Regions from separate parts of the Homo sapiens genome. Here all the other regions are linked to region 1. Evidence: fine-mapped expression QTL. A gene starts in region 1. Each other region holds a variant in brackets. All regions are shown on one strand. Distances are between the middles of the regions. Region 1 holds the start of COL5A3 (collagen type V alpha 3 chain). Region 2 overlaps COL5A3 (collagen type V alpha 3 chain). Region 3 has its middle 9.1 kb from the start of OLFM2.

Evidence for each region. PIP is the estimated chance that this variant, and not a neighbour inherited with it, causes the effect.
Region 2: its variant is fine-mapped to the expression of COL5A3 in iPS cells (HipSci, PIP 0.92).
Region 3: its variant is fine-mapped to the expression of COL5A3 in fibroblasts (GTEx, PIP 0.99).

What each region holds. Positions count from the first base shown.
Region 1 is chr19:10,009,341-10,012,092 of GRCh38, reverse strand. It overlaps COL5A3 (collagen type V alpha 3 chain), which reads left to right and starts at 1,589. Exons shown (of 67, transcript NM_015719.4): 1 at 1,589-1,795. The coding sequence starts at 1,708.
Region 2 is chr19:9,959,095-9,961,846 of GRCh38, reverse strand. It overlaps COL5A3 (collagen type V alpha 3 chain), which reads left to right. Exons shown (of 67, transcript NM_015719.4): 66 at 957-1,196; 67 at 1,290-2,286. The coding sequence ends at 1,436. Among named protein-coding and RNA genes, the nearest start is that of OLFM2, 24 kb to the right of the region's middle. The variant A/T (reference allele first, on the strand shown) is at 1,569.
Region 3 is chr19:9,944,282-9,947,033 of GRCh38, reverse strand. No RefSeq gene overlaps it. Among named protein-coding and RNA genes, the nearest start is that of OLFM2, 9.1 kb to the right of the region's middle. The variant G/A (reference allele first, on the strand shown) is at 1,390.

The DNA of each region.
Region 1 (2,752 bases):
GCTTGTCCAATTGCATAAAAGCTCTATTTGACCTCATGGGGGCCTCTTCATGCTGGAGGTGGGGGTCCCAGCACGGTGAGGGGGGCCTCTGCCTCATCCCAAGAATGGCAAGAATCCACCCCTTCCTCCCCAGTGGCTGTGCGTTGCTTTGCGACAGGGACAGATTCCCACCACCTCCCACCAACGCGCCGGCCTTTTTTTTTGAGACAGACAGAGTCTTGCTCTGTTGTCCAGGCTGGATCGCAGTGGCACAACCTCAGCTCACTGCAACCTCCACCTCCCGTGTTCAAGTGATCCTCCCACCTCAGCCTCCCAAGTAGCTGGGACTACAGGCGCCAGTCACAATGCCTGGCTAATTTTTGTATTTTTAGTAGAGATGGGGTTTCGCCATGTTGGCCAGCTGATCTCTAACTCCTGGACTCAAGCGATCTGCCCGCCCCAGCCTCTCAAAATGCTGGGATTACAGGCATGAGCCACCGCACCCAGCTCAGACTCCCTCATTTGGTGGGGATTTGGGATTGAGGCCGGGGCATCCACTGGAGACCTGAGTTGGGGCGGGGGGAGATGAGGGTTAGGGATGGAGATGAGACCCTTTATTTGAGGAATCAAGAATTTGGGGAAAGTGAAAACTGTGTTTTGGGATCTGTGGTGAGAATTTGGGACCAGGACACGTGACTTAGGGATTTGAGTGGACAGATGAAGGTTTGGAGTAAGGCTGGGGACCCCATTTTGGGATCTGGGGTGAGATTTGAGGTGGGATGAGGACCCGTTAGGGACTTGAAGGAAAGGCTTTGGGGCTGAGGCTGGTACCTCCTATTGTGCAGCTGAGGGACTGAGGATAAAGCAGGTAGGTGAGTGAGAGTTCGGGGTGAGGTTGGGACCCCAGTTGGGGGCCTGAGTGAGGCAGAAAGGACTTGGTGCCAGGGGCGGTGGCTCATGCCTGTAACTCCAGCGCTTTGGGAGGGCAAGGCCGGAGGATCGCTTGAGACCAGAAGTTCAAGACCGGCCTGGGCAGCATAGCAAGATCCCGGTCTCTACAAAATATACATATTTTAAAATTAGCTGGGTGTGGCAGTGTGTGCCTGTGGTACCTGCTTCTCAGGAGGCTGAGGCAGGTGGATGGCTTGAACGCAGGAGTTGGAGGCTGCAGTGAGCTATGATTGCACCACTGCACTCCAGCTTGGGTGACAGATCAAGACCCTGTCTCCAAAATAAAATGTAAAAATAATAGAAAATAAAAAAGATTTGGTATAAAGCTGCACCTCCTCCTAATTCTAGGGCCTGGATGGAGGCTGAAGTCTTGAATGAGGTTAAGGTCTCCTTTGAGGGGATCTGCTAGGCGGAAAAGGTTTGGGGTAAGACTGGAACCCTCGAACTCTAGGGCTGGGTGGGAGTGACCCTTCTCCTCCACAGTGGGGTGGGGCAGGAACAACCCAGCTCCTGGCGCTGGGCTCCACCCCAGCCAGCCAATCAGCCCTCAGCACAAAGTTTCCCAACTTCCCAGTCCAGCTGTCAGCGCTCCCCCTCCAAAAAGCCCCGCCTGGCCAGGCGCTGGAGCGCAGGGCGAGGCCAGGGCGGGGTCTCGGGCAGTTTCCCGCGGACCCTGAGAGGAGCGGCCGCCGCGAGTGACTGCACCGAGCCCGAGAAGTCGCCGCGCCCCGCAGCCGCCCCGACTGGTTCCCCGCCTTGCCCGTGGGCCCCGCCGGGATGGGGAACCGCCGGGACCTGGGCCAGCCGCGGGCCGGTCTCTGCCTGCTCCTGGCCGCGCTGCAGCTTCTGCCGGGGACGCAGGCCGGTGAGCCGGGAGGGAAGAGATGGGACCCAGGGTCCACGACTCAGAGAGGCTCTAAAAGAGCGAGGGGTGGAGGGGGGTGGAGGGGCGTGGAGGGGAAGGGCGTGGGCGCCGCGTGCGGCCCCGGTGTGATGTGGGCGCATGAGTATCTGACTCTGGGTGATTTGTGGGTGTGACAGCTCGGGGTGGGGGTGGGGATGTGTGAGTGCGTTTTCTGGCGAGCGCGTGGGAATGCATGCAATGTGCAGGTGTGTGCATGTGTGTATGTGTGTGTAGCATGTGTGTGCATTTGGAGTGAAGTTGCGTATGTGCTTGCGTGTGGAGGTTGATGGTGATAGTGTGACTGTGAGTGACAGGGCAGTGCTGGGACGGTGTGTATTGCGACAGGTGAGTATGCACTTGTGCTCTTGTCTATGTGCTGATTTTCGAGGGTAACCGTGTGAGTGGTTATGCGTGTGATTGTGTGTCTCTGAGTGCCGCTATGAGGGGTGTAGTTATGATTTTTGGGTGCAAATAATTGCCCATGAGGATGAAGGTGGGTGGGGACAAGTATTGGGGGGTGCTCTTCGGGAACCCACAGTTTCCTTTGCGTCTCTTTAAATGGCTTCACCTCATTCTCCCTTTTCCTCCTCTGCCCCAAATTGGCGAGCGCCCATCTCCTCCCCTCCCTCCCTGTTGCCCCCTCCCCCACCCCGCGGTCCCCAGAGCCGCGATCAGCACCATGGACAGGGCTTCGGGGAGGGCCGCGGTGAGGGGCGAGACGGGGCGGGGCGCAGGGCGGGGCAGGAGTGGAAGTTGCTCCCCCCCTCCCCACCCCAGCTGCTGGAGCCTTGGGTGTTTTTCCCGAGGAATTTCTCAGGAGCCCCCAAGGGGTCCCGGGGGCCGCCGGATGGGTGAGTCAGCGCTGACGCACGCCCAGCTGCGCGCATCTGGCTGGGCGCCCTGTCCCGCCCCTCAGGG
Region 2 (2,752 bases), 50 kb after region 1:
GTGGCTCACGCCTGTAATCCCAGCACTTTGGGAGGCCAAGGTGGGCGGATCACGAGGTCAGGAGATCGAGACCATCCTGGCTAACATGGTGAAACCCCGTCTCTACTAAAAATACAAAAAATTAGCCGGGCGTGGTGGCAGGCGCCCGTAGTCCCAGTTACTTGGGAGGCTGAGGCAGGAGAAAGGCGTGAACCCGGGAGGCGGAGCTTGCAGTGAGCTGAGACCATGCCACTGCACTCCAGCCTGGGCGACAGAGCAAGACTCCGTCTCAAAAAAAAAAAAAAAAATTAAATGAAGTTAAAAAAAAAAAAAGTCCCAGCCAGGCATGGTGGTGTGCACCTATAGTCCCAGCTACTTGGGAGGCTGAGATGGGAGGATGACTTGAGCTCAGGAGATGGAGGCTGGAATGAGCCAGGATTGTGCCAGTGCACCCCAACTTGCGCGAAAGAGCAAGATCCCAACCCTTACCCCCCAAAAAAGGAAAAAAAATTAAATAAAGTAAAAAAAAATCCCTCCTTCAAATCAGCCACATTTCAAGTGCTCAAAAGCCACGTGGCTATTAGACATGTGGCTGCCATATTGGACAGGGCAGAAATCTGGTATCAGGGACAGTGAGCTCTGTAGATCCAGCGACTCACAAGAGTGGAGGCAGAGTTGTGTCTTCTGGGTGGGGATGAGTGTGTTAAAACCCTGGATTGGTGGATGAAGCAATCAGAATTTGGGAGGTCAGATGGAGTGGGCATGGAGGCCTACTGGATGGAGAGGTGGACAGAGTGGATGTTCAGGTGACTCTTGGGATTCTGCCAGGGATCTCTAGGTGGCTGGTGGGACCTCCTCAGAGATGGTGACATGGGGGGGGTGGCTTGTCTGCCAGTGGATGGAGATTCCAGGGGGTGGCTTCTGCAGAAAGAGGCTCATGGAGCCCCTCATCCTCTGCCTTGCCCTCCTCTCACCAGTTCTCCTACGTGGACGCCGACGGGTCCCCAGTGAATGTCGTGCAGCTGAACTTCCTGAAACTGCTGAGTGCCACAGCTCGCCAGAACTTCACCTACTCCTGCCAGAATGCAGCTGCCTGGCTGGACGAAGCCACGGGTGACTACAGCCACTCCGCCCGCTTCCTTGGCACCAATGGAGAGGAGCTGTCTTTCAACCAGACGACAGCAGCCACTGTCAGCGTCCCCCAGGATGGCTGCCGGGTAAGAGGGTGGGGCAGTGGCCAGCTAGAGAGGGGAGGCAAGATGTCGGCCACCTTCCCGGTAACTCACCGTCTCTGTCTTCTCTGGGGACAGCTCCGGAAAGGACAGACGAAGACCCTTTTCGAATTCAGCTCTTCTCGAGCGGGATTTCTGCCCCTGTGGGATGTGGCGGCCACTGACTTTGGCCAGACGAACCAAAAGTTTGGGTTTGAACTGGGCCCCGTCTGCTTCAGCAGCTGAGAGTGTCCGGGGTGGGAGGGACCATGAGGGAGCCCCAGAATGGGGTGCATTTGGTGCTGAGGCTTTGAAGCCACCGTATTTTTCGTTACCTGTGACTATGGAGCCAATGGGATGTGACTTCGCTCATCACGG[A/T]CAGTCATTCCTTCTCCTTTCCAGGGTGCTGGGGGCTGGGGTTCCCTGGCCCAAGGGTCCAGCCTCCTCTCACCCCATTCCAGGTGGCATACTGCAGTCTGGCTCTTTCTCCCCTCCCTCCCCACCCAAGCCTCACCTCCCCACCCCTTGAACCCCCATGCAATGAGCTTCTAACTCAGAGCTGATGAACAAAAGCCCCCCCACCCCCAATGCCTGCCTCCTCACTCCTCCGTCGCTGCCCTTCACACCTTTTGGTGCTACCCCTCCCCAGAGTTAAGCACTGGATGTCTCCTGATCCCAGGCTGGGACCCCTACCCCCACCCCCTTTGATCCTTTCTACTTCCACGGTGAAAGGACTGAGGTCGGACTACAGAGGGAAGAGGGACTTCCCTTGACTGGGTTGTGTTTCTTTTCCTGCCTCAGCCCAGCTCTGCAAATCCCCTCCCCCTGCCCCCCACCTCCCCAGGCTCACCTTGCCATGCCAGGTGGTTTGGGGACCAAGATGTTGGGGGGGTGAATCAGGATCCTAATGGTGCTGCCCTATTTATACCTGGGTCTGTATTAAAAGGGAAAGTCCCCCCTGTTGTAGATTTCATCTGCTTCCTCCTTAGGGAAGGCTGGGATATGATGAGAGATTCCAGCCCAAGCCTGGCCCCCCACCGCCAGGCCATAGGGCATAATTTGCATCTCAAATCTGAGAATAAACTGATGAACTGTGTTTCTGTCTCTGTGTATTTCTTTTTTAAATTTTTTTGTTTGTTTGTTTGTTTTATTTATTTATCCTTGAGACGCAGTCTTGCTCTGTCGCCCAGGCTGGAGTGCAGTGGTGCAAGCTTGGCTCACTGCAACCTCCGCCTCCCGGGTTCAAACAATTCTCCTGCCTCAGCCTCCCTAGAAGCTGGGGTTGCAGATATGCACCACCACACCCGGCTAATTTTTATAATTTTAGTAGAGATGGGATTTCACCTTGTTGGCCAGGCTGGTCTTGAACTCCTGACTTCAGGTGATCCGCCCGCCTTGATCTCCCAAAGTGCTGGGATTACAGATGTGAGCCACCACGCTCAGCCCTTGTTTGCTCGTTTTTAGAGACTGGGTCTCACTCTGTCGCCCAGTCTGGAGTGCAAGGGCATGATCATGGCTCACTGCAGCCTCCAACTCTGGGACTCGAGTGATCCTCCTTCTTC
Region 3 (2,752 bases), 65 kb after region 1:
TTTAGTAAAGACAGGGTTTCATCATATTGGTCAGGCTGGTCTCAAATTCCTGGCCTCAAGTGATCCATCTGCCTTGGCCTCCCAAAGTGCTGGGATTACTTGCAAGAGCCACCGCGCCTGGCCAGAGCTGGCTGTTTCAGAGCCACAAATCCAGTGCAGCCTGGTCCAGGTGTCAGTTCTTGATCTCTGCTTGTAGCTTAAATGGAGGGGTCCTGGCCTCTACTACAAGGTGGGGAGAGGAGGCTGCACAGAGACAAGGGCTTGAATCCTAGCTCCTCTACCTCCTTGCTGTGTGACCTCAGGCAAGTTGCTTCACCTTTCTGAATGTCACTTTCCTCCCCTACGAAACCCTCCAAGGAGGATTGCCTGAGGCCAGGATGTCGAGGCTGCAGTGAGCCATGATTGCACCACTGTACTCCAGCCTGGGCGACAGAGCAAGACCCTGTCTCAAAAAAAAAAAAAAAAGAAAAAAGTCCAGGCCGGGTGGCTCATGCCTGTAATCCCAACCCTTTGGGAGACCAAGGCGAGTTGATCACTTGAGCCCAGGAGTTCAAGACCAGAACAGCCTGGGCAACATGGTGAAACCCCATCTCTATAAAAAATACAATTAGCTGGGCATGGTGGCGGTGTGCACCTGTAGTACCAGCTACCTGGGAGGCTGAGGTAGGAGGATCACCTGAGCCTGGGGAGGTCGAGGCTACAATGAGCTGTGATTGTGCTACCACACTCCAGCCTGGGTGACAGAGTGAGGCCCTGTCTCAAAAAAAGAAAGAAAGGGGCCCAGCTTGGTGGCTCATGCCTGTAATTCCAGCACTTTGGGAGGCCGAGGCAGGCGTATCACCTGAGGTCAGGAGTTGAAGACCAGCCTGACCAACATGGTGAAACCCTGTCTCTACTAAAAATACAAAAATTAGCCAGGCATGTGGCAGGAGCCTGTAATCCCAGCTACTCGGGTAGCTGAGGCAGGAGAATCGCTTGAACCTGGGAGGTGGAGGTTCCAGTGAGCTGAGATCGCGCCATTGCACTGCAGCCTGGGCAACAAGAGCGAAACTCTGTCTCAGAAAAAAAAAAAAAAGAAAGAAAGAAAGAAGAAAAAATAAAAAGAAATCTTCTCCAGGACTATCGCAGGGGTTGAAATGAGCCCCCTGCTGGGCCTGGCTTGGGGCAGACCACTCTGCCTTAGAACGGCTGTGGTTCTGAGCCAAGTTCCGGCCGCATGGCCTTAGATCAGGGCCCTGCTCCTTCCTGCTTTGGTAAGGCTGGGAAGCGTTCCTGGGTCTCCTTGTCCCGCCAGCTCATGCCTCAATTCCCAGGCCCCTAATAGGAACCACATGCGCTGGATGCCTGCCCTCCTCCCCCTTCCCTCCTCCTCCCCCAGAGAGGCCTCCT[G/A]AGTCATCCTCTCCACCTCACTCCCTCCTTGCAGCCTCATTCCCACGCTGCCCTGGCCTGGCGTCCTCGTGTCAGAGGGCTGTGTCGTGGGTCCCCGCGGGTCTGTTTGTGTGTGAACTCTGCCTCTACTGTGCCTTTGTGGGCGTGACTCCGTGTCTGAGTTATGGATCAGACACTGTGAGCGTGCTCTGTACAAATTCCATGCTTCTGTTTGCGTGTCTGTGCAAGAGTGTGTTGGCATGTGAACTGTCTGCCTGTTTTATGTGATTGTATTGTGAGTGTTTGAGTAAACGGATGTATAAATATGTCTATGCTGGAGACCTGTGTGTGAGCTGTGTGTCTGAATTGTGGGTTTTGTGGAGTTGTGTGTGTGTCTATTTTCTTTCTCTCTCTCTCTTTCCTTCCTTCCTTCCTTCCTTCCTTCCCTCCCTCCCTCCCTTCCTTCCTTCCTTCTTTCCTTCCTCCCTTCCTTCCTCTTTTTCTGCTGCTTTCTTTCCTTCCTTCCTTCCTTCTTGCTTTCTTCTTTCTTTCTTTCTTTCTTTCTTTCTTTCTTTCTTTCTTTCTTTCTTTCTTTCTCTCTCTCTCTCTCTCTCTTTCTTTCTTTCCCTCTCTCTTTCTCTCTTTCGTCTTATTCTGTCACCCAGGCTGGAGTGCAGTGATCTCAGCTTACTGCAACCTCCATCTCTCGGTTTCAAGCAATTCTCCTGCCTCAGCCTCCCGAGTAGCTGGGATTACAGGCATGCGCCACCATGCCAGGCTAATTTTTGTATTTTTAGTAGAGACGGGGTTTCATCATGTTGGCCCGGCTAGTCTCAAACTTCTGACCTCAAGTAATCCACCCACCGTGGCCTCCCAAAGTGCTGGGATTGCAGTTGTGAACCACAGTGCCTGGCCCCTTTCTTTCTTTCTTTTTTGAGACAAGGTCTCACTCTGTTGCCCAGGCTGGAGTCCAGTGGTGCAATCAGCTCACTGAAGCCTCAATCTCTCAGGCTCAAGCAATTCTCCTGCTTCAGCTTCCAGAGTAGGTGAGACTACAGGCACAAGGCACCATGCTCAGATAATTTTTTATTTTTAGTAGAGATGGGCTCTCATTAATTAAAAGAATTACCTGGGTGAGGTTGGGCATAGTGGCTCATGCCTGTAATCCCAGCACTTTGGGAGGCCAAGGTGGGTGGATCACGAGGTCAGGAGATCGAGACCATCCTGGCTAACATGGTGAAACCCTGTCTCTACTAAAAATACAAAAAAATTAGCTGGGCGTGGTGGCAGGTGCCGGTAGTCCCAGCTACTCGGGAGGCTGAGGCAGGAGAATGGTGTGAACCCAGGAGGCAGAGCTTGCAGTGAACCGAGATCGCGCCACTGC